Linked DNA regions of Homo sapiens: regions 1 and 2 are each linked to region 3. Evidence: fine-mapped expression QTL. A gene starts in region 3. Each other region holds a variant in brackets. All regions are shown on one strand. Distances are from middle to middle.

Region 1 (8,698 bases), 38 kb before region 3:
ATGTGATATAATTTTTCTTCTTCCTGAAAAACCTTCTTTAGTGTCTCTTGTTGGTTATATGTGGAAAGGGACAAATTACCTTGGTGCTTTTGAGTAAAAAAGTGTTTTATTTTGTCTTCACTGTGAAATATAATTTTTACTCATTTTTTTTTCTTTTTTGGAGAGGCAGGGTCTCACTATGTTGCCCAGGCTGGTCTCAAACTCTTGGGCTCAACTGGTCCTCCCATATCAGCCTCTCAAAGTGCTGGGATTACAGGCATGAGCCACTGTGCCTGGCCCACTGAATCTTTGATTGCATTCATTTTGAAAGATATTTTTGTAAAAATCTGTTTGTTTTCTTTTAATACTTTCCAGTGTTATCTGGGTTTCTTAATTTCTGACTTAAGGTCTGTAATAATTTCTGCTTTCATTCCTCTTAATATATTGTGTCTTTCTTTGTCTACATTTAAGATTTTATCTTTATCACGTGTTTTGAAAAGTTTTATTTTGATGTGCTCTGTATGTTTTTCTTTATTTGTAGTGCTTGGACCTTGTGGTGCTTTTCTTATTTATAATTTTCATCAAATTTGGGGGGTTTGACCATTATTGCTTCAAAAATAATCTCTGTTCTCTTTCTTCACTTTCTCCAGTTACATACTGTAGAGTAAATGATAGCTACCGAAGACAGAGTGATCCGTGATAAATATCATTAATGCCTCTGAAGAGGAGAATGACTCCAGTGGAACAAAAACTCTTAATAAAAATAGATAAAAATTTTTCTAGAATGAAATTTACAATATAACATCCATGAGCCCTTCTGGAACAGATGACTGCATCACTTAATCTAGCTGAGCAAGAGATGAATCAAAGTAGAAAACCCAGGAATGAAGCTGCCGTGTTAGGAGGAAAACTATGGTTAGAAAATAGCTGAAAATGTTGTAAAGCTTTGCAGTGTAGAAATAATAATGTAATCGGAGTGGGAAGAGGCAGTGAGACACAAAAAATATGTCTTTGCAGATAAATGAAACTATCAATTTTTTAGGACATTATTCAGTGTTGTTGTCAGGGTCTCAGCAGAGCTGGGAAAGAGAAAGCTCAGCTGTCAAGAGCGTTAAAGTAGCTGATTAAGGCCACAAGCCAAAAACAAAAGAGTTAAGCCTTCACTCACTTACAGTGGTGTTACTGGCAAGAATCTAAAAGCAGAGACAATGCCACTCTCTCGGTTCCATTTACCCATGGATCAGTGTATACGTGAGGGCCCTCTCACTGTTGAGGGAATCCTTGGCCTTAAGGGAAGGGAAAGCAGGGAGGGCTAGCAGTGGAAAAGTGCTGGGGACTGAGTCAGAATGGCACACTCTTCAGGTGTCATCAGTGTCTTCAGGGTTTCCCACACCTCCCCACACAAGGAGGCCTTGGCAGAGAAGTTCTGCTCAAGGCCTCAGATAAGGACACCTCGGAATGAAGGCTCTGGGACTAAGAATGCAAATGTTCCAAGAGCCTGACTGCTGGCCTGGTTGCCTGAGATCTTGACTACACACACACACACACACACACACACACACATCTAAATCCAGTAACATACCAAATGGTGAAACTTTAAAAGTATTCTCATTAAAATAATAAAAAGACAAGGATGTCCACCATTAGCACTATGACTTGATATAGTTGTGGATCTGTTAGCTAATGTACTTACACAGAGAAATATCATATAAATAGAAATATTTAAAAATGTGATTGAGTATGCCGGAAAATACCAACAAGTTAAGCAAAAATAATATATGAGGAACAATTAGTGCTTTAATAAGGACGCTGGCTACAAAAATATGATAACCTACAGCATACAATATACAATATGTCTACTAGAAGACATAATAGGAGAAAGTTCCTATTTTTAGTAACAACACAAGAATCTGTATAACAAGAAATCTATATAACTCACATGGGAGTTAAAGAGATTTGAAAAATGATGAAAGCGTACTGTGGTCTTGGATAGGATGGCTGAATATTGTAAAAATATTGGCTCTGTTTCACTATAACTTCAATAAAATAGTCAAAAGTTGTTGTTTTCTAATCTACCAAGTTCTTCCTAAAGTTCAAATGAAAATTCAGTTTAAGAATAGCCAGAAAACTTTCTGAGAAAATAGGCAATAAGGCAGGCAGAGGGACAAATACACCTGCCAGTCAATACAGGATGAACAGTGTTAGCCCACTGACTTGATCTAATATTATCTGAAAGCAAAAGTATTTTCCTTAACTTGTATAGTCATATAAGGTAAAAAATCAATTTCCTTTGGCTTTAAAATATTTAGTCATTAAAAATAACCTGTGTATTTCCATGACTACTTTATTTAATCCAAATACACTTTCATTGACCTAGAATACCAGGTTAAATAAGTTGTGAAGGGTTCAATTTAGTGATGAATTTTTGCCTAACTGCCTTATCAGTTGGCCTACACTATTAAAAAAATCACTATTTTCAAGAATCTGTTAAAGCTGTAATTTTTTTAGTGGCTAGCTGTATTAGAGACATTGACTCTGTTTACTTCCTTTCGATTCTAGACATAGGATGCCCCTGGAATAATTGCTATGAGAGATTGTTGTTTTTTACTTTAGTTGTAGGAATTTAGCTGTTATCATTCCACGTCCAGTTGCTTATCATAATGGCCCTGTATGTACAGGCTGTTGAACTTGAATGTGATGTGCTAATACCCTGCCCCGTGTGTTCTGGCAGACTGCTCAGTGTAGGATTTTCAGATTGCTTTCCTTAACACTGGGGAGTCGAGAAGTGCTTTAGGAAATTTTCAATATCTGATTTTGATTTCATTTTCACAGATGTATCTTTAATTATTTAAAATCCTATGATCAAAAACTGATAGACAAGCACATTCAAACTGTTAATACAATGGAGACAACTGACATGTTCCCACGTTAACTCACTCTTTACAGAATTCAGAGTAAAGCTTTTCCTGCTTTATTCATGTGCTTGAACTTCTTAGAAGTGGGCTATAATTAGGAAGGTTTTGATTCTGGGCTCATTTCTTTAAGTTTCTAGCTAAAGATGTGCACTGAGAGTGCTTAATGTGAGTTGGCAAACCCCTGACGTGTGCTTCCCTGTGTTTGTCTTCTGAGATATAGAAAAGGAGCAACACAGCACAGTTTTCAGCTACTTAGCCCATTAGGAATTCTTTTGATGCATCTTGTCAACAGTCATTTGAAGTTCATTGCACACAACTGCAAAACAAAATAATTGTGGATATCTGAGAATGAGGCCCTTTTCCATTTGATAATATATTAACAGATGTATATGAAAGGGATGGTGACTGGTCTGCATATCACATTTGCTAAATAAAGAACATTATTGACAGGTAGGTATTTAAAAATTTCCTAGACCCCATCTCCATGAACGTTATCAATTATAAAATAAGGTTCTCCACGTTTTACTCTAGAAAACAGCAGTGTTACACTTGAGGTGTGATACAGGCCAGATGTGCTTAGGATCCAGGAAACAACTGTTCCAGCTCTGGGCTGGTGCTGGGACCTTGGGGGAAGTCACTTAATTTCTTGTAGCTTCAGTTTACTGCCCCACTTCCTTCACAGTATTGCTTTGAGAAGTTAGTTAACCAAAGTTGATTTGACAAGCATTGTATTATAAACTGTTTCAGTTTCTGATATATTTAATTATAGTTAGTATTTTCCCTCTTCCCCATTCTATCCATGTTTTTATGTTCTTTTTTCCCCCTAAATGTTCATTCCTCAGGGCATTACACTCGAAGAGTTTGACAGATTATCTTTTGATATGATTTTAATGAGCCCTCCCTGCCAGCCATTCACAAGGTATGTGTCATAAATAT[T/G]TCAGTGTTGTATTGGTCCATTTTCATGCTGCTGATAAAGACATACCTGAGACTGGGCAATTTACAAAAGAAAGAGGTTTACTAGACTTACAGTTCCATGTGGCTAGGGAAACCTCACAATCATGGCGGAAGGCAAGGAGGAACAAGTCACGGGCAGCAGGTAAAGAGAGAGATGTTGTGCAGGGAAACTGCCCTTTATAGAACCATCTGATCTCATGAGACTTATTCACTGTCACAAGAACAGCACAGCAGAGACCTGCCCCCATGATTCCGTTACCTCCCACCGGGTCCGTCCCACAACACGTGGAAATTCAAGATGAGATTTGGATGGGGACACAGCCAAACCATATCAAGTGTAGAGAAAGTGCTTTTGAAGGACTTACTAAATCAGATCATACTGTAGTGTCAAACATGGACACTCTGAAGTTTATTAGCTGCATTTCATAGTTCGGAAATTTTTTCATAAATCCTTCTATCTACTTATGTATGTATTTATTTATTTTTAAATAATAATAATTATTGGGACAGGGTCTTGCTCTGTCACCCAGGCTGCAGTGCAGTGGCATGATCACAGCTCCCTGCAGCCTCAATCTCCCAGGTTCAAGCAATCCTCCTGCCTCAGCCTCCTGAGTAGCTGGGACTAAAGGTATGTACTTCCATGCCCAGCTAATTTTTAAATTTTTGGTAGAGATGGCGTCTCACTATGTTGCCACGGCTGGCCTAAAAGCCCTGGGCTCAAGCTATCCTCCCACCTCGACCTCCCAAAGTGCTGGGATTATACACGGAGCCACCATGCCCAGCCTCCATTCATATTTATAATTAAGCATTAATCACAAAGGAAATAGCAGTTGCTACCAGATGAGCAAATTAATTTGGTCAAAAGTAGATATGCAAGACTGTAGGATACCTCTTTTATACTTACCTAAGACACAATGTTTATTTCCAGCCCAAAGTACCTTAATTCATTTAAACTAATGAGCATTCAAGAATATCTTTCTAATACTGATTAAGCAAAGTGAATTTCCACAATAAATATTCAAGTCCTAAATTGCTTAATTGTACAATTTAAAAGCTAGTTAAGCATGCACTTGTGAACTTTACATTTCTTAAAATTCATATGTACATTGAATAATTCTGACTTTTCATAGCAACGTTATAAACTCTTCATTTAAAAAATTATATATATGTGTGTATATATATATTTGGCTATATGTTTCAGGAAATTATATCTTCGACCAAATCTTGACTAATTGATTTTCATTTAGATATTTTTAATAAGAGTATTTTGGATTATTTTAAATGAAAATAGCAGTAGTAATCCTCTAAGTGTCTGTGTCTTATGCAGAGGATGTCATTTAATTTAACAAGCTTATGGGGTAGCCATTGCTGTTACAATGATTTTACAGATGAGAAACTGGGGCATAGAAAGGTTAACTTTCTCAAGGATATACAATTAAAGAATGTCAGAGCCAAGATTTGTTAATCATTTTATATATTCCATGATTTTAAGTAGAATATCATATGTAATAACCAGTCTAATTCAGTGAATGAATATTCTAATGCCAAATTTCCATCTACATTTGGATTTATTTAAACAATTCTCTAGGAAATGAATTTCCCAAGGATTTGTGGTTCACCTACAAGCCAGGCATTATTTTTGATGCTGTAGTTCCTGTCCTTTGGGAGCTCATAGTCTAATGGGAATGGCTGACAAATAATTATCTTATAATGTTATCTTAAATTATCTTATAAGCTATATAATAAAAGAATGCTGAAAGTGTCACAGGAGTACAGAGGAGAAAAGGGCTTGCTGCATACCAAGAGAAGGGAATTCTTTCAGAGGTGATGTCTGAACTGTGTCTGGAGGTAGATTAGGAGTATATCAGAGCAGGCAGAGGCCATTCCATCTCAGGGTGGCTCTAGGCACGTGCAAGAGTGTGGCCTGTGGAGTACAGTGAGCAGGATATACACAGCGGAATGCAGCTCCAGCTCTGTGAAGCCTCAGGTAATACTGCAGAGGGCCCCGTAGCTTTCCTACTCCCACCTCCCCCTTGTCTTAGCACAGCTCCAGCTGCTGATGGCAGGAGTAACTGATTCTGTAGTCCTCATGTGAAAGTCTGACAGGAAAGGACAAATAAGAACTGAAGATTTCTGAGAAGTCTGTTCACATCCAGTCTAATCCCACAGCTGAACCTCAGATCCACTGATGGTTTTGGTCCTGCCATCAGGTATGAGGAAACTGACCAATGATGCCAGCTAACTTATTTAAGACTCTGAAGATAAATAGCATGCTTTTTTTTTATTATTATACTTTAAGTTTTAGGGTACATGTGCACAACGTGCATGTTTGTTACATATGTATACGTGTGCCATGTTGGTGTGCTGCACCCATTAACTCATCATTTACATTAGGTATATCTCCTAATGCTATCCCTCCTCCCTCCCCCCACCCCACAACAGGCCCCGGTGTGTGATGTTCCCCGTCCTGTGTCCATGTGTTCTGATTGTTCAATTCCCACCTATGAGTGAGAACTTGCGGTGTTTGGTTTTTTGTCCTTGTGATAGTTTGCTGAGAATGATGGTTTCCAGCTTCATCCATGTCCCTACAAAGGACATGAACTCATCCTTTTTATGGCTGCATAGTATTCCATGGTGTATATGTGCCACATTTTCTTAATCTAGTCTATCATTGTTGGACACTTGGGTTGGTTCCAAGTCTTTGCTATTGTGAATAGTGCCACAATAAACATACGTGTGCATGTGTCTTTATAGCAGCACGATTTATAATCCTTTGGGTATATACCCAGTAATGGGATGGCAGGGTCAAATGGTATTTCTAGTTCTAGATCCCTGAGGAATCCCCACACTGACTTCCACAATGGTTGAACTAGTTTACAGTCCCACCAACAGTGTAAAAGTGTTCCTATTTCTCCACATCCTCTCCAGCACCTGTTGTTTCCTGAGTTTTTAATGATTGCCATTCTAACTGGTGTGAGATGGTATCTCATTGTAGTTTTGATTTGCATTTCTCTGATGGCCAGTGATGATGAGCATTTTTTCATGTGTCTTTTGGCTGCATAAATGTCTTCTTTTGAGAAGTGTCTGTTCATATCCTTTGCTCACTTTTTGATGGGGTTTTTTGTTTTTTTCTTGTAAATTTGTTTTGAGTTCATTGTAGATTCTGGATATTAGCCCTTTGTCAGATGAGTAGATTGCAAAAATTTTCTCCCATTCTGTAGGTTGCCTGTTCATTCTGATGGTAGTTTCTTTTGCTGTGCAGAAGCTCTTTAGTTTAATTAGATCCCATTTGTCAATTTTGGCTTTTGTTGCCATTGCTTTTGGTGTTTTAGACATAAAGTCCTTGCCCATGCCTATGTCCTGAATGGTATTGCCTAGGTTTTCTTCTAGGGTTTTATGGTTTTAGGTCTAACATTTAAGTCTTTAATCCATCTTGAATTAATTTTAGTATAAGGTGTAAGGAAGGGATCCAGTTTCAGCTTTCTACATATGGCTAGCCAGTTTTGCCAGCACCATTTATTAAATAGGGAATCCTTTCCCCATTTCTTGTTTTTGTCAGGTTTGTCAAAGATCAGATAGTTGTAGATAAGTGGCATTATTTCTGAGGGCTCTGTTCTGTTCCATTGATCTATATCTCTGTTTTGGTACCAGTACCATGCTGTTTTGGTTACTGTAGCCTTGTAGTATAGTTTCAAGTCAGGTAGCGTGATGCCTCCAGCTTCGTTCTTTTGGCTTAGGATTGACTTGGCAATGTGGGCTCTTTTTTGGTTCCATATGAACTTTAAATTGGTTTTTTCCAATTCTGTGAAGAAAATCATTGGTAGCTTGATGGGGATGGCATTGAATCTATAAATTACCTTGGGCAATGTGGCCATTTTCACAATATTGATTCTTCCTATCCCTGAGCATGGAATGTTCTTCCATTTGTTTGTATCCTCTTTTATGTCATTGAGCAGTGATTGGTAGATCTTCTTGAAGAGGTCCTTCACATCCCTTGTAAGTTGGATTCCTAGGTATTTTATTCTCTTTGAAGCAATTGTGAATGGGAGTTCACTCATGATTTGGCTCTCTGTTTGTCTTTTATTGGTGTATAAGAATGCTTGTGATTTTTGCACATTGATTTTGTATCCTGAGACTTTGCTGAAGTTGCTTGTCAGCTTAAGGAGATTTTGGGCCGAGATGATGGGTTTTTCTAGATATACAATCATGTCATCTGCAAACAGGGACAATTTGACTTCCTCTTTTCCTAACTGAATGCCCTTTATTTCTTTCTCCTGCCTGATTGCCCTGGCCAGAACTTCCAACACTATGTTGAATAGAAGTGATGAGAGAGGGCATCCCTGTCTTGTGCCAGTTTTCAAAGGGAATGCTTCCAGTTTTTGCCCATTCGGTATGATATTGGCTGTGGGTTTGTCATAGATAGCTCTTATTATTTTGAGATATGTCCCATCAATACCTAATTTATTGAGAGTTTTTAGCATGAAGGGTTGTTGAGTTTTGTCAAAGGTCTTTTCTGCATTTATTGAGATAATCATGTGGTTTTTGTCGTTGGTTCTGTTTATATGCTGGATTACATTTATTGATTTGCTTGTGTTGAACCAGCCTTGCATCCCAGGGATGAAGCCCACTTGATCATGGTGGATAAGCTTTTTGATGTGCTGCTGGATTCGGTTTGCCAGTATTTTATTGTGGATTTTTGCATCGATGTTCATCAGGGATATTGGTCTAAAATTCTCTTTTTTTGTTGTGTCTCTGCCAGGCTTTGGTATCAGGATGATGCTGGCCTTATAAAATGAGTTAGGGAGGATTCCCTCTTTTTCTATTGATTGGAATAGTTTCAGAAGGAATGG
Region 2 (8,698 bases), 420 kb after region 3:
CGCACCAGTAGCAATTGACTCTTTTCATCCTGGAGGCCTAGCTGTCCTTATACCACATTCACACAGGTACCTGCAGCACTATGACCATAGCTACCCAAAGCATAGGTCACATGGAATGACTGAGACCCCAGTGTTCAAACCCAAGTGACACACCACATCCCCCCACCCCCCAGGGAACAGGCAGATCTGTACGGTGCTGAAGTCACTGAACAGTCAGCCAATTACCTCTCCTGCACGTACCTGCACCATAGCCACCTGTCCCACCAAGCGCGGTGCATCCATAGCTGGTCCAACTGTTGGTCCTGTGGCAGCCTCGTTCCCGCATACAGACACCCAAAGAGCAGCTGAATGCTGCTATTCTATGTCTAGCCTGACAGCTGGTCCAGTAGCAGCCCTCCCTCCCAAATAACTGCAAGGCTGCCCAACCCCATTTCACACTGGCATCCAGCCCAAGAGCTGGGCCAGTGGTGGACCTGCTCCTCTAGACAGACTCCTACAGGGCCACCTGACACAGCTGCACCTATGTGCAGCTGGCACAGCATCAGACCAGTAGACTCTTCATCCATCCTCTTGAAGAGACAGCCACGTAGCTGCTCAGCTAGCCACACCCATATGCACCTAAGCTCAGCCCAACAGCCAGACTAGTGGTGGCCCCACCTCCCTGAAAAGCCTGTTGGAGAGCCTTTTCGCCCTCCACACCCATACATATTCAGCCCAACAGCCAGCCCAACACCCCTACTCCCAGCAAAACCACACACTACGACCACCACAAATACCTACAGCATAGGCCATTGAGGCAATTGCAGACATTGCTGATGAAGATTGCAGCTGAAAAAACTACATGTAGACCATGCTACTGAGTCCACCCAGAACTAAAGCTAACTCACCACACTCAAATGACACCTTGGGACCTATCTACAGGAAGAATTATCTCCTAATGAAAGTTACTTCATAAACCTGGAAAGGGTCACTATTCCACTAGATGTTCAGATATCAGCATAGGGACACAAGCAATGTGAAAAAGCAAGGAAATGTGATACCTGCAAAGGAATACAATAAGTCTTTAGTAAAAGACCCCAAAGAAAAGGACATTTATGAAATGCCTGAAAATAAGATAATCTTAAGGAAACTCATGGAGATACAAGAGAATACAGCAAATAATTCAGTGAGATCAGGAAAACAATTCATCATCCGAATGAGAAATGCAACAAAGATAAGTGTCATAAAGAACCAAACAGAAATCTTGGAGCTGAGGAATTATGAATGAAATAAAAAGTGCAAGTGAAAGCTTCAACAACAGACTAGATCAGGCAGAGTAATTTCTGAACTTGAAGACAGGCCTCTTGAATTATCCCAGTCAGAGGGAAAAAAAAATAAGAATTTTAATTGAAGAAAGCCTGTGGGACTCATGCGATACCATTAAATGAACAAATGTGTGCATTATAGGAACTTCGTAGGGAGAAGAGTTGGAGAAAGACACAGAAAACCTATGTAATGAAATAATAGATGAAAACTTCCCTAGTCTTGGCAGAAATACGGACATAGGAATTCAGCAAGTTCAGAGGTCCCCAGTTAGATTCAGTCCTCTCTGAGGCACATTATAATCATACTCTCAAAAGTTAAAGACAGAATTTTAAAAGCCACAAGAAAACAGTGTCACATCACACACAAGGGAATGTCCATTAGACTACTAGTAGATTTCTCAGCAGAAACCTTGCAGGTTAGAAGAGAATGGGATGATATATTCAAAGTGCTGAAAGAAGGGGGGCTTGTGGGGAGGAGGAACTGTCAGCCAAGAATATTATATCCAACAAAGTTATCCTTCAGAAATGAAGGAGAAATAAGACCTTTTCAGACAAGCAAAGGCTGAGAGAATTTGTGACCAGTAGGTTGGCCTTATAAGGAATGCTTAAGGGAGTGCTACCACTGGAAAAGAAAGGACAATAATTATCATGAAAACATGTGAAGGTGTAAAACTCACTAGTAGAGGTAAATTCATAAAATACTCTAGTGATTTAATGGTCCTATGTAAATCTCTCAATCCTCTAGTATGAAGACTTAGAAGTCAAAAAGGTCAAAAACAACAACAACCACACTTAGTGGCTACAAATATATAATAAATAAGTAGATTAAGGCAACAAAAATATTAATTGTGTATGGGGTTAAGTCTAGAATATTTTCATGCAACCAGATTTAAATTGCTATCAGGTTGATGTAGTCTATTGTAACTACAAGACTCTTATGTTAGCCCCATGGTAACCACAAAGAAAGAAATTACGACAGAATAATAAACAGTAAAGAGAAAGAAAACAAAACTTCGCAGCACAGAAAACCACCAAACCGCGAAGGAAAATAACATGAGTAAAAGAAAGGGGAAAAGGATCTACAAAACAAGCAGAAAACAACAATATGGCAGGAATAAATTTTTATTGATATGACCTTGAATATAAATGGATTAAAGTCTCAAATTTAAAAACACAGAGTGGTCGAACAGGTTTTAAAAATAAGACCCAACTATCTGCTGGCTACAAGAGGCTCACATCATCATTAAAGACAAACATAAACTGAAAGTGAAGGAATGGAAAAACATATTCCATACAAACAGAAACCAAAAGTGAGCAGGAGTAGCTATAATTGTATCAGATAAGACAGATTTTAAGTCAAAAACTGGAAAAAGAAAAAAGGTCATTATGTCATGATTAAAGGATAAATTCAATAAGAGAATATTGTAACAAATACATATGCACTCAACCCTGAAACATACAGATGTACAAAACAAACATGATTGCACATAAAGGTACAGATCAACTGCAATACAATTATAAAAGGGAAGTTTGGCAAAGAAATATCAGACTAAAACTACATCAAAGACCTAATGCACCTAGCAGATATTTACAGAACATTTTAACAGCTGCAGAATACAAATTCTTCTCAATTACACATGAAACATTCTCCAGGATAGAGCACATGCTAGGCCACAAAACAAATCTTAACAGATTTGAGATAGAGATCCTATCAAGTATCTTTTCTAACCACAGTGGTATGAAACTAGAAAACAACAACATGAGCAACTTTGGATACTTTGAAATACGTGGAAATTAAACAACATGGCCCTCAACAACCAGTGGGTCAATTAAATTAACAGAGAAATGAAAAATTGCTTTGAGACAAACAAGAATGCAAACACATCTTACCAAAACCTGTGAGACACAGCGAGAGAGCAGTTCTAACAGGGAATTTTATAGCAATACACAGCTACATTAGAAAAGAAGAGAGATTTTTAATGAACAACCTAATGACGTACCACAAGGAACTAGAAAAACAAGAACAAACTGAACCCAAAATTGATAGAAGGAAAGGTAGAATAAGGCTCAGAGAAGAAATAAAGACAAATTAACATTCAAAAGATCAAGAAAACGAAGAGTTGGTTTTTTTGAAAAGATAAGCAAAATCAACAAACTTTAAGCTAGACTAAAAAAAACAAGACTCAAGTAAAATCAGAGATGGAAAAGGAGATGTTACAACTGATACTACAGAAATACAGAAAATTATAGAGAATATTATGAGCTGCTATATGCCAACAAATTTGATAATATGGAAGAAATAGATAAGTTCTTGGACATATACAAACTACTGAGATTCAATTATAAAGAAATTAAAGATCTGAACAGACTAATAACTAGTGAGACAATTAGTTATAAAAAGTCTTTCCTGGATAGAGAAAATGTGGCACATATACACCATGTGGAATACTGTGCAGCCATAAAAAAGAAAGACTTTATGTCCTTTGCAGGAACATGGATGAAGCTGGAAACCATCATTTTCAGCAAACTAACACAGGAACAGAAAATCAAACATTGCATGTTCTCACTGATAAGTGGGAGTTGAACAATGAGAACACATGGACACACGGAGGGGAGCATTACACACTGGGACCTGTCGGCGGGTAGGGGGTAAGAGGAGGGATAGCATTGGAGAAATTCCTAATGTAGATGATGGGTTGATGGGTTCAGCAAACCACCATGACACATGTATACCTATGTAACAAACCTGCACTTTCTGCACATATATCCCAGAACTTAAAGTATAATAAAAAATAAAAAAATTTAAAAAAAATGTTTCATCAAAGAAAAGCTTAGGACCTGATGGCTTCACTACTGAATTCTACAAAACATTTGAAGAAGAACTAATAACAGTTCTCCTCAAACTATTCCAGAAAATTGATAAGTGGGGAGTATTTGTAAAATTTTATGAGGCCAGCATTACCCTGATCCTGAAACCAGACAACGATACAACAACAACAGCAAAACTACAGGTAAGTATCTGTAATGTGAACATAGATGCAGAAATTCTTAATAAGATATTAACAAACTGAATCCAGCAGCACATTAAAAAGATCATTCACTGTGATCAAGTATTACTCATACCAGTGTTGCAAGGGTAGTTTAACGTATGCAAGTCAATAAGTGTAATACATCACATTAACAAAAAGAGACAAAAACAATATGATCATTTCAGTAGATGCAGAAAAAGCATTTGACATCCTTCAACATTCTTTCATAAAAACTCAACAAATTAGTTATGGAAGGTATGTACCTTAACACAGTAAATGTCATGTATGAAAAACCCACAGCTGACATCATACTGAATGAGGAAAAGCTTTCTTTTAATATATGGAACAAGACAAGGATGCCAACTTCTGCTACTTCTGTTCAACATAGTACTGGAAGTCCTAGCCTAAGCCATTAGGGAAGAGAAAGATATAAAAGGCATCCAAATTGGAAAAGAGGAAGTCAGATTGTCCTGTTTGCAGACATGATCTTACATATAGAAAACCGAATGGGAGAAAATTTTGGCAACCTTCTCATCTGACAAAGGGCTAATATCCAGAATCTACAATGAACTCAAACAAATTTACAAGAAAAAAACAACCCCATCAAAAAGTGGGCAAAGGATATGAACAGACACTTCTCAAAAGAAGACATTTATGCAGCCAAAAGACACATGAAAAAATGCTCATCATCACTGGCCATCAGAGAAATGCAAATCAAAACCACAATGAGATACCATCTCACACCAGTTAGAATGGCAATCGTTAAAAAGTCAGGAAACAACAGGTGCTGGAGAGGATGTGGAAAAATAGGAACACTTTTATACTGTTGGTGGGACTGTAAACTAGTTCAAC[T/C]ATTGTGGAAGTCAGTGTGGGGATTCCTCAGGGATCTAGAACTAGAAATACCATTTGACCCAGCCATCCCATTGCTGGGTATATACCCAAAGGACTATAAATCATGCTGCTATAAAGACACATGCACACGTATGTTTATTGCGGCACTATTCACAATAGCAAAGACTTGGAACCAACCGAAATGTCCAACAATGATAGACTGGATTAAGAAAATGTGGCACATATACACCATGGAATAGTATGCAGCCATAAAAAATGATGAGTTCATGTCCTTTGTAGGTACATGGATGAAATTGGAAATCATCATTCTCAGTAAACTATCGCAAGGACAAAAAACCAAACACCTCATGTTCTCACTCATAGATGGGAATTGAACAATGAGAACACATGGACACGGGAAGGGGAACATCACACTCTGGGGCCTGTTGTGGGGTGGGGGAAGGGGGGAGGGATAGCATTAGGAGATACATCTAATGCTAAATGACGAGTTAATGGGTGTAACACACCAGCATGGCACATGTATACATATGTAACCTGCACATTGTGCACATGTACCCTAAAACTTAAAGTATAATTAAAAAAAAAAAACCAAAGGACTCTACTAAAGAACTGGTAGAACTAATAAATGAATTCAGTAGTTATGGGATACAAAATCAGCATACAAGAATCAGTAGTCTTTCTATATATTAACCATTATTAATATTGGTTCATTAACTATCTGAAAAAGAAATCAAGAAAACAGCTCCATTTACGATAGCTTAAAAAAAAAAAGATAATAGAAACAAAACCAAATTGAAAGCTCTCTATATTGAAACTCTAAAACTTTAACAAAAGAAATTGAAGAGGACACAAATAAATGGCAAGCTACTTTGTCTTCATGGTTTGGAAGAATTAATATAGTTAAGATGGCCATATTACCTAAAATAATCTACAGATTTGATGCAATTCCTATCAAAATACTAATGACATTCTTTACACAGATAGAAAAAAAAATCCTAAAATTCATATGGAACCACAAAAGGACCCAAATAGCCAAAGCAACCCTGAGCAAAAAGAAAAACCTGCAGGTATCACACCAACCAAGTTCAAAATGTACAGTTGACTCCTAAAGAACTTAGATTTAAACTGTGCAGGCTCACTTTTATGTAGATTTTCTTCTGCTTCTGCCACCCCTGAAACAGCAAGACAAATCCCTCAACAGGAAGCCTACTCACCAGGAAGACAATGAGGATGAAGACCTTTATAATACTCCACATCCACTTAATAAATAATAAATATATTTACTCTTCCTTATGTTTTTCTTAATGACATTTTCTCTAGCTTTATTGTAAGAATATAGTATATAATGTATGTAACAGACAAAATATGTTAATTGACTATGTTATCCGTAAGGTTTCTGATCAATAGTAGGCTATTAATAGTTTTTTGGGGGAAGTCAAAAGTTGTTCAAGGGTCACTGCTACTACAAAGTTATGGGAACCTAAACATGTTACTGGCTTTAAAAACAGACGCATAAACCAGTGGAACAGAATAGAGAGCCGACAAATAAATTTACATACCTATAGCCAACTAATTTTTCATAATGGTGGCAAGAACACACATTAAGGAAAAGACAAATCTCTTTAGTAAATGGTGCTGGGAAAATTGGATATCAACATGCAAAAGAATGAGTCTAGACCTCTACCTCTTACCAAAAAAAAGAAAAATCAAAACAGATTAAAATGTAAATGTAAAACCCAAAACTATGCAACTACTGGAAGAAAACAGAGAGGAAACTTTTCACAGCATTGACCTGGAGAAGGGTTTTTTAAACAAGACTTCAAAAGCAGCAGGCAACAAAAGCAAAACTAGACAAACAAGATTACATCAAATTATAAAGCTTTTGCACAGCAAAGGAAGCTATTGACGGAGTGAAGAGGCACCTAAAGAATGAGAGTAAATATTTACAAAGTATGTATCTGGCAAGAGGTTAATATTCAGAACATAAAAGGATCATAACAGCAAAAAAAAAAAAAACCTGATTAAGAAAATGGGCAAACTACCTTAATAGACATGTGTCCAAAGCAGACATACAGATGGCCAACATGTATATGAAAAAATGCTCAACATCAGTAATCATCAAGAAAGTGCAAATCAGAACCACGATAAAATACCACCTCACTCCAGTTAGCATGGCTATTGTTAAAAAGAGAAAATAAGGGTTGGCAAGGATGTGGAGAAAGGGAAACACATTGTTGGTGGGATTGTAAATTAACCATTATGGAAAAGAGTATGGAGATCCTTCAAAAAATTAAAAATAGGACTACCATACAATCCAGCCATTCCATTACTAGGTATATATCCAAAAGAAATTACTATGTTGAAGAGAAAACTTCAACTCCCATGTTTATTGCAGCACTGTTTACAATAACTAAGATACGTAATCAACCTAAGTGCCCATTAATGCAAGAATGAATACAGAAAATGTATATATACATAATGGAATATTATTCAGCCATGAAAGTATGAAATCTTCTCATTTGCCACAATTGGATGAACCTGAAAGAAGTCATGTTTTGTGAAATAATCCAGACACAGAAAGACACATAACACATGATCCCACTCATATGAGATCTTTTTTTCTTAACAACAACAAAAACAGAGTTGGTATCCTTGAAACAGGAAGTAGAATAGTGGTTACCAGAGACTGGGAGGGGCGGGAAGAGATGGAAGGGTGCAGAGATGTTGGCCAGTGGGTACATAGTTACATTTAGACAGTAGGAATAAATTTTGATGTTCTGTTACACAGTAGACTGACTGTAATTAACAGTGAAATATTGTATATTAGGAAACAGCTAGAAGAGAGGCTTTCAAATGTTCCCACCACAAAGAAATACGTGCATGAGGTGATGAATACTAGCCACCCAGATTGGATAATTATATAGCATAGATAGGTATCAAAACATCAAATTGTACCCCCATAAGTATGTATAATTCCACTGTGTCAATTAAAATTTTTTCTAAAATTTTCTAAAATTATTTTTTCTAAAAAGACCACCCACGGAATGAGAGAAAATATTTGTAAATTGTATATCTGATAAAGGATTAAAATTTAGAGTATATAGAGAACTAAAACTCAACAGCAGCAACAATAAAAAACACAACCCAGTTGAAAAATGGCAAGGGACTTGAATAACTTTTTCCCAAGGAAGGTACATAAATGGCCAATAAGCACATGAAAAAATGTTCAACATCTCTAGTCATTACGGAAGTGCAAGTGAAAACTACAATGCTATATAATTTCATATCCATTAGGGTGGTTACTATAAAAAATTTACAAGTATTAAAAAGATGAGGTTGGGAACCCTTGAGCACTGTTGGTGGAAATGGAAAATTGTATGACAGTTTCTCGAAAAATTAAAACTACCATACGACCCAGCAGTTTCACTTCTGAGTATATTCCCGAAATAATTGAAAATGGTCTCAAAAAGATATGTGTACAGCCATATTTATAGCAGCATTGTTCACAGTAGC
Region 3 (8,618 bases):
CAACAATGCAAAATACATTTGCATGTGTCTTGCTGAAGAAGTCAAAGAGAGTAAAGGCTGATGAGTGGAAATCAACAGTACAGCAGACACCATTATAAACTTAAAGTCTACAACATGCCATTAATGTTATCAGTGTTCTGACCTAAGGGTTTTATTTATTTTTTATTATTTTATTTTATTTTTATTTTTTGAGACAGAGTCTCACTCTGTCACCCAGGCTGGAGGGCAGTGGCATGATCTCAGCTCACTGCAAGCTCCGCTTCCCGGGTTCAAGCCATTCTCCTGCCTCAGCCTCCTGAGTAGCTGGTACTACAGGCGCCCACCACCACGCCCAGCTGATTTTTTGTATTTTTAGTACAGACGGGGTTTCACCGTGTTAGCCAGGATGGTCTCCATCTCCTGACCTCGTGATCCACCCGCCTCGGCCTCCCAAAGTGCTGGGATTACAGGTTTGAGCCACCGCGCCGGGCCCTAAGGGTTTTATTTTAATGAATGCGTACAAATGTGCATAAGGGTTCCTTAGGTAAACTCTCCAACTAGGTGCCCTCCTCCAAACACTGAGCAGCCCCCAGAGCAGATCCTCCCTGTCCGAGGGCTCCATTGCTAGCACCCCATATAAAAGCTTCCTCACCCTGGTTACTCAGTTCCACTCAAGGATGATACCGTTTCTTTTGGATTGCCTGCTCTTCAAAACTCTTGGATTTAAATGGAATCTTGCTCTCCACCCACCAATGTGGAGTTGTTCTGTGCTTCCTGGAGTCACCTTGCCTTGTTCTTAGACATCAGTTACCTTTGCCTCACACCTTTAACTCCAGGTCAGCAATCGTCTTCCTCACTCAAAGTCCCCAATTCATCTCTCTGCTCTGAAATCCTCTTTTATAGGAGAAATGATCAGACACCCTTGCTTCTCCTTGTACCCAAGATTATAAAGACAGCTGTGAATTCTTTTTGTCATTTTTTCTTTTAAGGAATCTAAACCCAAGAGAGGATACAGGAGGGTGAGGATTATTATATTTCTTTACATGATATTGATAACAGCTTATATTTAATGAACACTTATTTTGTGCCAGTAACCTAATGTGCTAAACATTTTACATAACTTCAGTGCTGTTATTATCTGTCTGCTGATGAAAAAACAAGGTTCCATGGTCAGTAAGTGATGGAGTCAGACTTTGAACGCACATAAATGAGCTTCAGGCCCGTGTTCTTAACCTTCAACCATGTGGTCTTCCCTAGACTGGAGGCTTCAGAGGGAAGAATCTGCAATTTACTACATTTCGTGTTCCTATCATCTTATAGATGGCTAATATGTAAAGGGCACATGCAGAATATTAGGGGAATGCATTCTAGATTAGGGAAGAGACAGGAGTTTTACTAGTCAATGAAAGATAGAATTTCAGGTCTATAGAATGTTTACCTTGGGAGAGGAGAAGAAGAGAGGTTATCTACCATATAGATCTGAAGGTCATAGATTCTAAAACTACTTTAATTCATCTTTCCTGAAGTATTTCTGAATAGAGTAAGTAAACAGAATGAGTGCCAATCCCTTGGAAACAGCAATTGATTTTTATATTGCTTTTCACAGAGTCAACATATGCAGACAGTCTGACTTGCCTATTGATCTGAGCTAGAGTTGAGTGAATGAGCTGGATGTAAAATTCCCTAACTCATCACTAAAAGTCAGTCAGACCTTGAACGACGGTTACTTTCTTTTTTTTTTCTAACATGGGTGACAATGAGCAATTGAATGCTTAGATTGGGAGCTGAGAGATTATCTTTACTTTGTTGAGTAATAAACACATTAATTAACAAAACAGGAAAATCCTGTCAAAGAGGAAGTCCTTATTAAGATCATGCTGGAGGCCTTTTCTATTGCACTGGAAAGATTAGCTGAGTTCAGTGGTCTTTAAGAAAGTATAATCATGAAAATAGTTACGTCCAGAGCTCAGAGAGTTTGAATTATCCTTTTGATTGGAAGATTCTAGCCCAGACTATTTTATCCTATTCTAAACTTGCCAAAAATTTCATATTGTCAAACTTTCCCTCCACCCCATGCCAAGTTGTTAAGCTTTCAAATAAACAAATTTATTATGATAAATTTCATCTCTATTGATGTAAAGGCTATTGGATATCTTTTCTTAGCATTTAGTTTAATACCAAATTAATATTTTGTATCATCCTGATATATGAAGACATTTACAAATATAGAAGAGAAATAATTTTAATCAGTTTTATTGTGCTGTAATTTACATCTGCCAAAGATTATCTATTTTAACTATACAGCTTTATGAGTTTTGACAAATTTATACAGTCATGCAACCACAATCACAATCATGATACAGAACATTTTCATCACCCTTAAATATTCCCTCATGCCTCCTTGCGATCAATCTCCTCCCCAACCCCTGGCCTCTGATTTGTTGTCTATCAATCAGTGTAGTTTTGGCTTTTTTAGATTTTCATATGGAATCATGTGATATAGAATCACTTAGGAAGTAGTCTTTTGTGTCTTATTGTTGTCCTTGAAAAATATTTTTAAGCAAGCAAAATGACTTGCCACAGGTTGGCAGAAAAATATTTGCAAAATACGTATTTGAAAATTCTTGTATCTAGAATATATGAGCTCTTACAATCAATAAAAGACAAACAACAAAATTTTAAAAAATAGGCAAAATATCTAAACAGACAGTTCACCGAAGAAGATAAACAAATGGCAAATATACATAAAAAGATGCCCAACATCTTTGGTCATTAGGGAAATATAAATTAAAATTGTAATGAGATACCTATGTTGACACAAAGACCTGTTCACAAATGTTCATAACAGCTTTATTTATAATAGTCCCAAACTGGAAATAACTCAAGTGTTTATCAACTGATGAGTAGAGAAGCAAACTGTGGGATAGCCATATGATGAAATACTACTCAATAATAAAAGGGAACCAATTAATGATATACACTACAGCACAGATGAATTACAAAAGCATTATGTTGAGTGAAAGAAGCAGATACAAGAGACATATAGAAGAAATTGGGAAGGTTTAAAAAAAATTTTTAAAAGCAGTGACTATTTGAGTATCACAAGTAAAGTTTTTTTTTGTTTTGTTTTGTTTTTGAGACGGCATCTCGCTCTGTCCCCCAGGCTGGAGTGCAGTGGCATGATCTCAGCTCACTGCAAGCTCCGCCTCCCGGGTTCACGCCATTCTCCTGCCTCAGCCTCCCGAGTAGCTGGGACTACAGGCGCCCGCCACTAAGCCCGGCTAATTTTTTGTATTTGTAGTAGAGACGGGGTTTCACCACGTTAGCCAGGATGTTCTCGATCTCCTGACCTCGTGATCCGCCCGCCTCGGCCTCCCAAAGTGCTGGGATTACAGGCGTGAGCCACCGCGCCCGGCATAAGTAAAGAATTATAAGCTATGGTACATAATGATCCTCTCCTCAAAGAGCCTACATAAGTAAGACACAAAATAAGTAAAACACAAACAGGCTTGTCCTGAAAGAGCCTGCATGGGTATTAACCAATGCAATGGTAATTACCTAGAGATTTTTCTTAGAAGTGAAATTTTTACAGCTCTCCCTCAAATTCAGTTTTGTCTGTGTGCTCATGGAAAGTCTGAGTGCATCAATAGTTGATTTTACAATCGAAATGTAGAATATTTTCATCACTCTCAGTGGTTTCTGTAGTCCCAGCACAGAGTGAGTGGGGACATCAGTGCTCCATGTCCTCAAACCATATATCCAGCTGGAAGGGTGTATAGCGCAGTGTGGAAAGTGGGAATGGATTCCACAGCCGTCCATAGGTCCCACAGGGATGATAAAAAGTAAAAAGTACAAATTCTTTGTACATTCTGGATATTAACCCATTTTCATATATATATGATTTGCAAATATTTTCTTCCATTCTGGGAGTTGCTTTTTCACTCTGTTGATGTATTTTTTGATGCACAAACGTTTTTAATTTTGATGTATTCCAATTTATATCTTTTGGTTGTCTGTGTGTTTTTCTTTTTTTGCCCATGCTTTTGGTATCATACTCAAGAAATCATTGCCAAATCCAAAATCCAAGGTCATGAATTTTTGTCCTATTCTTCTGAGTTTTATGTTATAGTTTCAGATTTTTTGAACCATTGTGAGTTAATTTTATAGTTTTAGCTCTTAGATTTAGATCTTTGAACTTTTTTGAGTTAATTTTTGCATATGGTATGAGGTAAGCCTCCAACTTCTTTTGCATGTGGATATCTAGTTTTCCTAGCGCTGGGTAAAGGTGGAACTCCTCTGCAAGGGAGGTGAGGAAGGAGGGGAACAGAGAAAGGTGTAGATAATGACCAGTTTACTTTTGTTGAAACCTAGTTACTTCTTAAGCAAAGATTGTTTAAGTGGATGTTTTCAAAGCTGCTTGTTACTGTTTCAAAGGTCAAATAGATAATGATTAAGTTGCGCATCACTTAAGGTAGATTTTGACCTCTCACAAGTTGAAGAGTACTGAAGATCTAAGATCATTTACATCCCTCTGGAAGAAAAAATAACATAGCCTTCTAGGGCAAAGAAGAAAAAACTCAACAGTTACAGGATATTCCATGGTTCAAAGTACACCTGCCTGGTTTGCTGTTCTCCAAAATCCCATGCTCAGTTGGTTGGAGTGGCCTCACTCTTACCTGCCAACCTGGGAGGTTGATGATGAACATGTCTTTACCTTTTCTTTGGAGTTTGCTTACCTTATTAATATTTGCTGAAGTAAATGGCGAAGCTGGAGAACTTGAGCTGCAGAGACAAAAAAGAAGCATCAATCTCCAACAGTAAGTAAACACATGGGTCATTCCTGCTCAGGGACTAGGCTAATTCCTCACCAGTTTTCCCAAATAGCCAGATAAACAAAGGTGCAATTTTTCTTGAGGAAAATTATGTTGAGAAGCAAACAGGGAAAAACATTTAGACTGAGGTATGAAATTACTTTCCTATGCACAAATTATTATCTGTCATTTTGCAAATAATCTGTTTGCAATTGCCAGGAGGTATCTCTGAGAAATGTGCAGAGAAAAAAGTGGCAGATGAGCAGGGGCAGTTGGGTTGAGATGATCAAAAAGTGAAGATGTATTTGGCCTGTAGTTATTCAGTAAGAAACTTTGTTATTTTGGTTTAAAAATTGTACTTGCTAATTACTGATGCATTCTCTCGTTTGAATTATATAGGCCTCGAATGGCTACAGAGAGAGGAAATTTGGTGTTTCTTACGGGGTCTGCTCAAAACATTGAGTTTAGAACCGGATCCCTGGGAAAAATTAAATTAAATGATGAAGATCTCAGTGAGTGTTTACATCAGGTAATACACTGGAAATATATTGAAGTCATTTTGTATATCCATATACGGTGACTTAATTGAACAAGTCTAGATTAATCTGTACCTTGAATCTTTTTTAATTATTATTTTTTATTAATACATAATTTGATACATTCCTATAATGTGTAAAGTTCAAATCAGGGTAATTGGGATATCCATCACCTTAAATATTTACCTTTTCTTCATGCTAAGAACATATGAATTGTTCTCTTCTAGTTATTTTGAAATGTACAATAGATTAATGTTAACTATAGTCACCCTACTGGTCTATCAAACACTAGGTCTTATTTCTTCTATCTAACTATATATTGTATTCATTAATCAACCTGTCTTCAGCCTCCCTCCCCCTTCCTAGTGTACCTTGAATCTTTAGCATAGAGAACATAATTGGGCATCAGACATGTTCTTGTAAAGGACGATGGCCTGGGGTTAATAGTGGGTAGAGGGAGTATGCTAAAAGATAGAAGCTCATTGTGCCAGACAATGCACCCTAGTCCAGAGAAGGCACGGAGGGTGGAACTGAAACTCCTCCACAGGGGATGCGAGGAAGTAGGGGACCAAGGATATGTGGACATGTGACCAGTTTGCTTTTGCCACAGAACAGAATTGGCCAGTTATTCTCCTGCCTTACTGGGTGTTTTCATTTCCCAATAATCACTGCATATTTCAGTCATAATGTTAGAAGTCAGCATTATTCAGAGCTTACTGTGGGCCATCCACTGTGCTTAGCACCGTATGGATGTTATCTCATTTGACCTTCACAGCTGTCCTATGAGGTGGCCTTTATTGTCACCCTAGTTTTACAAGAGGTAAAGAAACCCTGAAGCAGTTAGGTAACTTGCCCAGGACAGCAATAAATAGCTGAGCCAGGACTTAAAACCTAAACAGTCTGCTTCCAAGCCAGGTTTCTTAATAAGCACCCTAAACTGGTATTATAGGAAAACATACAAATGGAAAATACCTTGATCTATTGTTACTGAAAAGGATAAGTGGAATTATGCTGTGGCTATTTTAGCCCAGTGTTTATTACGCATGGTGTTGTTTTGGTTTTTATAATAATAGGCAAGATCTTAGTGCTTAAAGTAGAATACTACTCAAGTTTTTAATTATGTTACTGTAAAGATAAATATGATATTTTCACTAGTGCTCTTCATTTCTTCTTCTTTTTCTAAAATTAGATCCAGAAAAACAAAGAAGATATTATAGAGTTAAAAGGGAGTGCAATTGGTCTGCCTCAAAATATATCTAGTCAAATCTATCAGCTTAATTCCAAGGTAAGTCTGACATCTACGTCATAAGAACCGATGAGTTCTCCCTAGTTCTATTGTATAAGTAACCGTTTTGTAGGGGATATACCAACTTTGTGTGCTCTTTAGAGATTTAGCATGTAACTACTCACTGTTTGGTTAAATGACACAGCTGTAATGGAGGCTGTAGAAGTGATGGACAGAAGGCAGGAAATGCTGTGCAAGCACTTGTTGCAGAAGTAGGCCTTGGGCTGGGAGCAGTGGCTCACTGCAAGTGAATGGATGATTAATATAAAAAACTGCCTGTAATCCCAGCAGTTTGGGAGGCCACAGAGGGAGGGTCGCTTGAGCCTAGGAGTTTGAGACCAGCCTGGGCCACATAGTGAGACTCCGTCTCTACCAAAAAAAAAAAAAAAAAAAAAAATAGCTGGGCATGGTGGCATGAGCCTGTACTCACAGCTACTTGGGAGGCTGAAGTGGGAGGATGGCTTGAGCCAGGGAGGTTGAGACTGCAGTGAGCTATGATCATGCCACTGTGCTCCAGCCCAGGCAACAGAGTGGGACCTTGCCAGAAAAAAAAAAAAAAAAAAAGAAAGAGAGAGAGAGAGACAGAAAGAGAGAGAGAGACAGAGAGAGAGAGAGAAAGAAAGACAGAGTGAAAGAAAGAGAGAGAGAGAAAGAAAGAAAGGAAGAAAGAAAGAAAAGAAGCCTTGCTGAAGTTCTGAGAGCAATCTTCTTATTGGGGAAGTGGATGCATCACTGACATTTATGAACATTTCCATAGTCACTGCCTACAGAGAAGCAATCGGTCAACTTATCAGTGGGTTGTACTTTAAAAAAAAACTTAAAAAAACCCCAGAAATCTATGTGATAGGAGGGAATAGGAAGGAAGAAAATCCTGAGGGGAGAGGAATGAAGAGGAAAAAGGGAATAAAAGGAGGAATGAACAAAGTGTGTCCCTAGCAGAGGGCATTAGGACAATATGTCAAGGATATAACATCACATGTGCAATGCCTTTGAACCAGCTAACTGAAGCTTTTTCTTCCCTATTGCCAGCTGGTGGATCTTGAGAGAAAATTCCAAGGCTTGCAGCAGGTAGGTCTCATGCTACTACATACCCAAATCTTTCACAGAAAACATACTAGAATCATTAATAGAGCTGCTATTCTTATTTTGAAGGTGAATGGATGATTAATATTAAAAACTTGCTTTTTCCCATAATTTAATTCTCATCCCAGCATGTGCTTCCCAGGATGCAGATGCAGAGCTGAGTCTAAGACAGATGAAATGACAAGGCTGAGGTCTCCGAGCCTGTTAGGGCTTCTGACCCTGAGTTTGCAGCCCACAGCCCACATCCTTTACCATCACCCTTTAGCTGTGTGTGCTGTGCTTGGTCAGCTAGTGATCTCCCAACTTGCTGATTCTCCCATCAGGGACTGGGGCTCGGAAAGCAAGCATCCTCTCTGACGCTAAGCTCGGAAGTCTAGGTGTATCACAAAATAGTCCGAATTTTCTTAAAATGACATTTGCTGGTAATTAAACTTGAACAGTTTCTTACAGAAAACATTGTATAACTGTACTACATGCTTGTAGACTGATCTATGTAAACTTAGGCTTCTTACCCCTTTTGTAGGAAGCTGACCTTTTAAAGACTTTCATGGAAGCTGTAACCTTCTATGCAGAGAAATGTACAGAATCTCTTCATGTTTAAAATTTTGCATAAAAATCTGGGGATTCCAGTGTAAGAATTTCTGCAAAAATATTCTTCATCTGTTTTGCTCATGCTTCAAGCATTTTCCTCTACTTTTAAGTTTGATCTGTCCCACTGTGAAGGACAGATACAAAAAAAAGGACTCATGCAGATTGAGGCAGGTCCCACCATTCTGGCAAGGATTGCTGCTGCAAACCTTTTTGTCATTTGATGATCAAGTTCGTGTATTCCTTTTCTCCACTTAGATAATACATTGACCCCTCAGCTGTCATTTTTAAGAGAGTAGTTAAGCGAAAGAAAATGAGTAAAGAATAGTGCTGTGG

The links. PIP is the estimated chance that this variant, and not a neighbour inherited with it, causes the effect.
Region 1: its variant is fine-mapped to the expression of CUBN in blood mononuclear cells (TOPMed, PIP above 0.99).
Region 2: its variant is fine-mapped to the expression of CUBN in coronary artery (GTEx, PIP above 0.99).

Annotation. Positions count from the first base shown.
Region 1 is chr10:17,163,956-17,172,653 of GRCh38, reverse strand. TRDMT1 (tRNA aspartic acid methyltransferase 1) reads left to right here. Exons shown (of 11, transcript NM_004412.7): 3 at 3,737-3,813. Among named protein-coding and RNA genes, the nearest start is that of TRDMT1, 33 kb to the left of the region's middle. The variant T/G (reference allele first, on the strand shown) is at 3,831.
Region 2 is chr10:16,706,074-16,714,771 of GRCh38, reverse strand. The region is part of intron 7 of RSU1 (Ras suppressor protein 1); the gene reads left to right. Among named protein-coding and RNA genes, the nearest start is that of RSU1, 110 kb to the left of the region's middle. The variant T/C (reference allele first, on the strand shown) is at 5,186.
Region 3 is chr10:17,125,822-17,134,439 of GRCh38, reverse strand. CUBN (cubilin) reads left to right here and starts at 4,629. Exons shown (of 67, transcript NM_001081.4): 1 at 4,629-4,796; 2 at 5,190-5,319; 3 at 6,516-6,611; 4 at 7,641-7,679. The coding sequence starts at 4,675.